2 linked regions of the Homo sapiens genome follow. The protein of the gene in region 2 interacts with the protein of the main gene of each other region in a biochemical or structural test. Each region holds a gene or a part of one and is shown on either strand. Other genes may lie near its edges.

Region 1 (3,820 bases), on a different chromosome or scaffold from region 2:
TGCAGATCAACTTGTGTTTAAAGCTTGTCTCCTCAACAGACTGTAAACTCAAGAGTGGGCGGATCACACCTCATACTTCTTTTGTATCCCCAATAGGACTAATGGGGTACCAAGCACATGGAAGGTGTCTAATGAAAATGCCTCTTCTCAGGTAGCTGAGCCTATAGTGTAGTGGGCACTGCAGGGACCACATGATGAAAAAGCAAGCCAGACCGATTTCTTGGAGCTTACAGGTTTGGAGGAGGAGTAAGTCATGAACATGCAAGATTAGGCTACGAGGCAGACCATGAGGTGTTACAGGAAAGAAGCAGTAACCCAAGGGAAGGGAGAGGCCCAAGCCCCTGGGAAACTGGGGGAGGCTGTGCCTACGCCTTCCCTTGATGTGGGCCTCAATGGGCCAGTGGGAGGAGGGCAACAAAAGGAGTAAGGTGGAGAGGGAGAAGCTACGAGCAAACACACCAGAGGGAAATCTGCGGTGCCTGCAGCACCACACTGTCGCAGCAGCCGAGTGCAGAGGAATGGGAAGCAAGACCGAAAAGGCAAGATTTCACCATCCCTTGATGGCAGGAAAAGGTGGTAATTAATTTGGTAAGTCCGGGAAGCAGCCACTGAAGGTGGCAAGTCTGCTTCCTTCTAAGAGCCAGGCAGAGGGCAAGGCGAAGGGGAAGGGGTAGGAATAGATCTAACATAAAAAAGGAGGGGTGAGGAGATGAGAAGGGAAAAGGGAGGCCTAGAGGCAGGTTCCATTGCCTCTGGAGAGCAAGACAACCCCCCGCCCTGCCTTGATATACACACACTGGCAGGGGCTCCGAGTCTGGCAGGGCCCAGCAGCTCAGACACCCTGATTCTTGCCATTCAGTCTTAAGCCATGGTTTACTGTACAGGATTGAAATTATGTTAATAGTGTCATTCATGCTAGTAGTGTCACTTTATTAATACATTTAATCACAGAAATAAAGGTTTTATTCATGACACTATCACTACTGATAGCACTACTACAAGAAGCTTATTCTTCAGTTCTTTTTCCCAAGTCAATGGGCAGCTTATAAAGAAATACAAAGACCCTAGACCCTAAAGACTGCATTAGGCGAGAGCCATTCCACGGTTTACTTCTCCTTCCCATCATCACCATTTTTAGAGAGGTGCAATGGGGTGAAATGAACACTAAGGGCTAGTTAAGAAAATAGATCAGGCCAGGAACAGTGGCTCATGCCTACAATCCCAGCACGTTGTGAGGCCGAGGCGGGCAGATCACCTGAGGTCAGGAGTTCGAGACCAGCCTGACCAACATGGTGAAACCCCGTCCCTACTAAAAATACAAATAAAATTAGCTGGGCGTGGTGGCGCACACCTGTAATCCCAGTTACGGGGGAGGCTGAGGCAGGAGAATCGGCTGAACCCAGGAGGCAGAGGTTGCGGTGAGCCAAGATTGCACCATTGCATTTCAGCCTGGGCAACGGAACAAGACTTGGTCTCAAAACAAAAACAAACCAAGAAAATGGATCACAAAAGGACAGCCCATGAGATGCCTGTGGAAGGAAGGGCAATTATACCATGTTTCTACTTAACACATAATCCTTCCTACGTGCCAGACACTGGTCTAAGCACTTTACAAATAAGAACTCATTGCAACTTCCTAACCCCATAAGGTAGGTACTATCATTCCTCCCAATTTACAGATGAGGAAATGAAAACATAGAGGCCAAGTTTCTTGCCCAAAGTCACAGGGCTAGTGAGCAGAGCCAGAACAAGAACACAGGCACTCTGGCTCCAGGCTAAGTGGCCTGACCTTATACTCAGCTGCCCCTCACTATGCCTTTTAGGACAGGGTGCAGGTTATAAACACATGAGCCTCCTTCTCTCCAAGGGACTGCCAGATGCAGAAAGGCACACAGGAGATAGTGTGGGCCTCAGGGATGCTGCTCTGGTTATGTATCAGAAATGGAGCCCCCAAAGCATCAGAAATGGGGAAGAGCAGAGTGGAACGAAATATACAGACCCTGAGTTCACTGCCCATCATTCTCAGAGTCCAGAGCTACCACCCTTCAGGATCATAAAAACTAGAGCAGGCAGAAGCTCTCCTCAGCAGAAAGTCAAGAGGCATTCAAATCCTCCACTCTCTAAGACAAACTCTACTCGCCAAAAAACTTTCCAGAGGAAATCAGCTTCACTGATTACTACTCTCATCAGTTGGTACTTAATGCTCACTGGCTGTTAGACCGTATCTACACTGGGCACCTTTCTGGTTTGTGGATTACAGATAAGCCATATATCGCTGCCCCTAACGAGTCAGTGCACTACAGCCACGTTAGATTATGTTTCACTTTCAGGCCTCAGGGCTTGAAGCAATTCTATTTTTAAGCTTTCTCAGTTCCAAAAAGGAAAAGAAGGCATTTTAAGGAAATTAGCGTTGGCTAAAGGAATGACAATTTCCTCTTAAAGAGTTAACTGATTAGCCACTTTGCTAAACCAGAAATCTTGGAGCTAACCACAGAGGAAGAACACCTTGTTCAATGTTACTGGGCAAGGGCTGGGGACCTCTGAAAGCATGACAGTCACTCAGGATGTTGGTGGCCCAGGACAAAACTCCGTTACTACCAGAGGGGCACTGTGTGTCCTTCTCCCCAAGAAAGTCTCAAAAATCCTTTTAGATTCTATTCTCTATGAAGCATGTGTCACTTTTTGAGCAACAGAATTGATATAACCACAGAAGACAAATTTGCGAATATCAAATAAATCTTTAAAAATATTACTATCACGTTTTGAAGAGTCATTCTTTCCTTTTTTAAATAATTCCCTTTCATTTAACATCCAAAGTAGCCTTGCTTATTTTGTATCTTTGGGAATAAGTCATTACCCCCACAGCCAACTGTTTAAAGGACACTTCTTTATGTGCGCATTTTTAAAAAAGGTAACCACTCCTGAAGGAAATCTAAAATGTGTCCTACACACCCCAATTTTCCCATATAGGGTTCATGAGACACAGTTAACCTTCTCTTGGTGAATGAGGCTTCTAAGAATTCAAGAGTCTCCCGTTTCGGTTTTGGCTTTGCCACTAGCAAAGACCTGTGACCTTGGGCAAGTAATTTAACAGCACTGGGCCTGAATTTCCTCACCTGCAACATGAAGGGGATTGGGCAGATGAGGACTCTTGTGCCTTACACTTCTCAAATGTTATGATTCCAAGACCAGTGTAAATGCCAACTATTGCCCATGCCAACCTAGAATATCGTTCTCAGGGACTGTCAAGTTCTAAGAATGTTGTCTAGACCACACAAATGGCCCCAGAGAGTTGGGCTACGGTAATGGAAAGCAGACTAAAGTCAATTATTTTTTATTCTTTTTGTCCCCTTTCTATTCCATCAGCTGCCAATTCTCACTGCTTTCTACCTCGAGCTGACATAAACCCCTGCCTTAGTTTACAAAGCTAAGTGGGGGCCTGCATCACTTAGATTCTTCATCAAAGCAAAGTGCATCTGGCTGTGTGATACAATCTGGCAACCAGTGGCCTTCATCACTTCTCCTTCAAAGTTACATTGCATTGGATAGGAGAGTATTTGAGGGCAAAAATTATATTTTTTAAAAGTTATATTGTAGACAAATATGGTGGCCATAAGACTGACCCCCAGTTAAGGTTGGGGAAAGAACGTACATTCCTTGAATTCCAAAAACACATTGCTTTTAGAGGAGAGGGTTTGAAACAAGTGTGAACAGAATATAAACCAATTTCCCTCTTATTGAAATAGAAACTCGGTATGTTATCCCTCTATAATAATCCCCACTCTGTAAGTTTCCTGTCCCCAAAGGCAGTTGTTGCTTT
Region 2 (2,886 bases):
ATACCCACTTTACAGTTTGCGACTCTGAAGCTTCAGAGATGTTAAGCACCTTGCCTAAAGTTTTGGAACTAGTGAGTAGCAGAAGCTGAATTCCAACCCAGGGAACCTACCCTTTTCAACCTTTATACTCCTCTGCCTCTGAGGGACTCTGAACCCTACTTATCCTGCACCCAACCCCTATTTTTTACAGGAACTAGAACTGCAGGCCCAGATCCATGGCCTGCCAGTACCTCCCACTCCAGGGCTGCTTTCCTTGGCCACGACTTCGGCTTCTGACAGCCTCAAGCCAGAGCAGCTGGACATTGAGGAGGAGGGCAGGCCAGGCGCAGCAACGTTCCATGTAGGGGGGGGACCTGCCCAGAATGCTCCCCATCAGCAGCCCCCTGCACCGCCCTCAGATGCCCTTCTGGACCTGCACTTTCCCAGCGACCACCTGGGGGACCTGGGAGACCCCTTCCACCTGGGGCTGGAGGACATTCTGATGGAGGAGGAGGAGGGGGTGGTGGGAGGACTGTCGGGGGGTGCCCTGTCCCCACTGCGGGCTGCCTCCGATCCCCTGCTCTCTTCAGTGTCCCCTGCTGTCTCCAAGGCCAGCAGCCGCCGCAGCAGCTTCAGCATGGAAGAGGAGTCCTGATCAGGCCTCACCCCTCCCCTGGGACTTTCCCACCCAGGAAAGGAGGACCAGTCAGGATGAGGCCCCGCCTTTTCCCCCACCCTCCCATGAGACTGCCCTGCCCAGGTATCCTGGGGGAAGAGGAGATGTGATCAGGCCCCACCCCTGTAATCAGGCAAGGAGGAGGAGTCAGATGAGGCCCTGCACCTTCCCCAAAGGAACCGCCCAGTGCAGGTATTTCAGAAGGAGAAGGCTGGAGAAGGACATGAGATCAGGGCCTGCCCCCTGGGGATCACAGCCTCACCCCTGCCCCTGTGGGACTCATCCTTGCCCAGGTGAGGGAAGGAGACAGGATGAGGTCTCGACCCTGTCCCCTAGGGACTGTCCTAGCCAGGTCTCCTGGGAAAGGGAGATGTCAGGATGTTGCTCCATCCTTTGTCTTGGAACCACCAGTCTAGTCCGTCCTGGCACAGAAGAGGAGTCAAGTAATGGAGGTCCCAGCCCTGGGGGTTTAAGCTCTGCCCCTTCCCCATGAACCCTGCCCTGCTCTGCCCAGGCAAGGAACAGAAGTGAGGATGAGACCCAGCCCCTTCCCCTGGGAACTCTCCTGGCCTTCTAGGAATGGAGGAGCCAGGCCCCACCCCTTCCCTATAGGAACAGCCCAGCACAGGTATTTCAGGTGTGAAAGAATCAGTAGGACCAGGCCACCGCTAGTGCTTGTGGAGATCACAGCCCCACCCTTGTCCCTCAGCAACATCCCATCTAAGCATTCCACACTGCAGGGAGGAGTGGTACTTAAGCTCCCCTGCCTTAACCTGGGACCAACCTGACCTAACCTAGGAGGGCTCTGAGCCAACCTTGCTCTTGGGGAAGGGGACAGATTATGAAATTTCATGGATGAATTTTCCAGACCTATATCTGGAGTGAGAGGCCCCCACCCTTGGGCAGAGTCCTGCCTTCTTCCTTGAGGGGCAGTTTGGGAAGGTGATGGGTATTAGTGGGGGACTGAGTTCAGGTTACCAGAACCAGTACCTCAGTATTCTTTTTCAACATGTAGGGCAAGAGGATGAAGGAAGGGGCTATCCTGGGACCTCCCCAGCCCAGGAAAAACTGGAAGCCTTCCCCCAGCAAGGCAGAAGCTTGGAGGAGGGTTGTAAAAGCATATTGTACCCCCTCATTTGTTTATCTGATTTTTTTATTGCTCCGCATACTGAGAATCTAGGCCACCCCAACCTCTGTTCCCCACCCAGTTCTTCATTTGGAGGAATCACCCCATTTCAGAGTTATCAAGAGACACTCCCCCCTCCATTCCCACCCCTCATACCTACACCCAAGGTTGTCAGCTTTGGATTGCTGGGGCCAGGCCCCATGGAGGGTATACTGAGGGGTCTATAGGTTTGTGATTAAAATAATAAAAGCTAGGCGTGTTTGATGCGCTTTTAACTTTGGCAAAGAGTCTCCTGTCCTTGTTTTACACTGTGCAGTGAACATAGCCCATGCAGGCCAAGAGGGATAAAAGTCCTTGGGAGAAACAGATTCCAGAAGGATGGATAAAAGAATTTAGAAAGGAAGAGGGCATGGAGGAAGACAATATGCAAACAAAAGACAGTATTTTTAAAGACCAATCACCAGGCACAATTTTAACTGCTGCAAGTGTTTCATCTAATTTATTTCTCTAAAGGGATGTTAGTCAGAACATGCTGCTTCTTACTTCCATTTGGTCTTTGAAGAAGCTGAGGAATAGAATTGAACTGTTCTGAAGATATGCAAGCCTGTAAATGGGTGAGGCGGTAAAACAGTAAAGTCAGGTGAGTGAGGGCTCGATTGAAAAATGCCACTGAGGGCAGAGGGGGAAAGAAGCTTTTCTTGCAAATCCACTTTTGAAACTGATAAAGAAGTCTATGAGGATATTTCCTGGCAGACAACAGAGGTATTTAAGATGGTGGAAAGGACAAAGACAAATATCTGAAAGGCAGAGGAACAAGCAACCAACTGAATTTTGGAACAGATGTTGAGATTTTGGGAGAATTTAAATGAACACAAGTATCTTCTTGAAGGCTGGGAAAAAGTATTTTCCCGCAATTTCTCAACCAGACACTGACTCCTAGAACAAGCATCAGGCCTGGTCCCTCCATTTCCCCCACCAGACTGTGACCTCTGAGGGCTGGAACTGGGCTTGGTCACCGTGACTACCCTAGACTGTGACCACCATACTTGTTATCTCTTTTTTTTTTTTTTGAGACAATCTCGCCCTGTCACCCAGGCTGGAGTGC

What was found.
Region 1: the proteins of TFE3 (region 2) and E2F3 form a complex in vitro, tested with the Homo sapiens proteins (one study listed by BioGRID).

The regions. Positions count from the first base shown.
Region 1 is NC_000006.12:20,408,293-20,412,112, reverse strand, and holds part of E2F3 (transcription factor E2F3), read right to left. Parts: intron 1-3,820.
Region 2 is NC_000023.11:49,027,906-49,030,791, reverse strand, and holds the end of TFE3 (transcription factor E3), read left to right. Parts: intron 1-190; coding exon 191-634; 3' UTR 635-2,066; downstream 2,067-2,886. UniProt on the Homo sapiens protein: Transcription factor that acts as a master regulator of lysosomal biogenesis and immune response.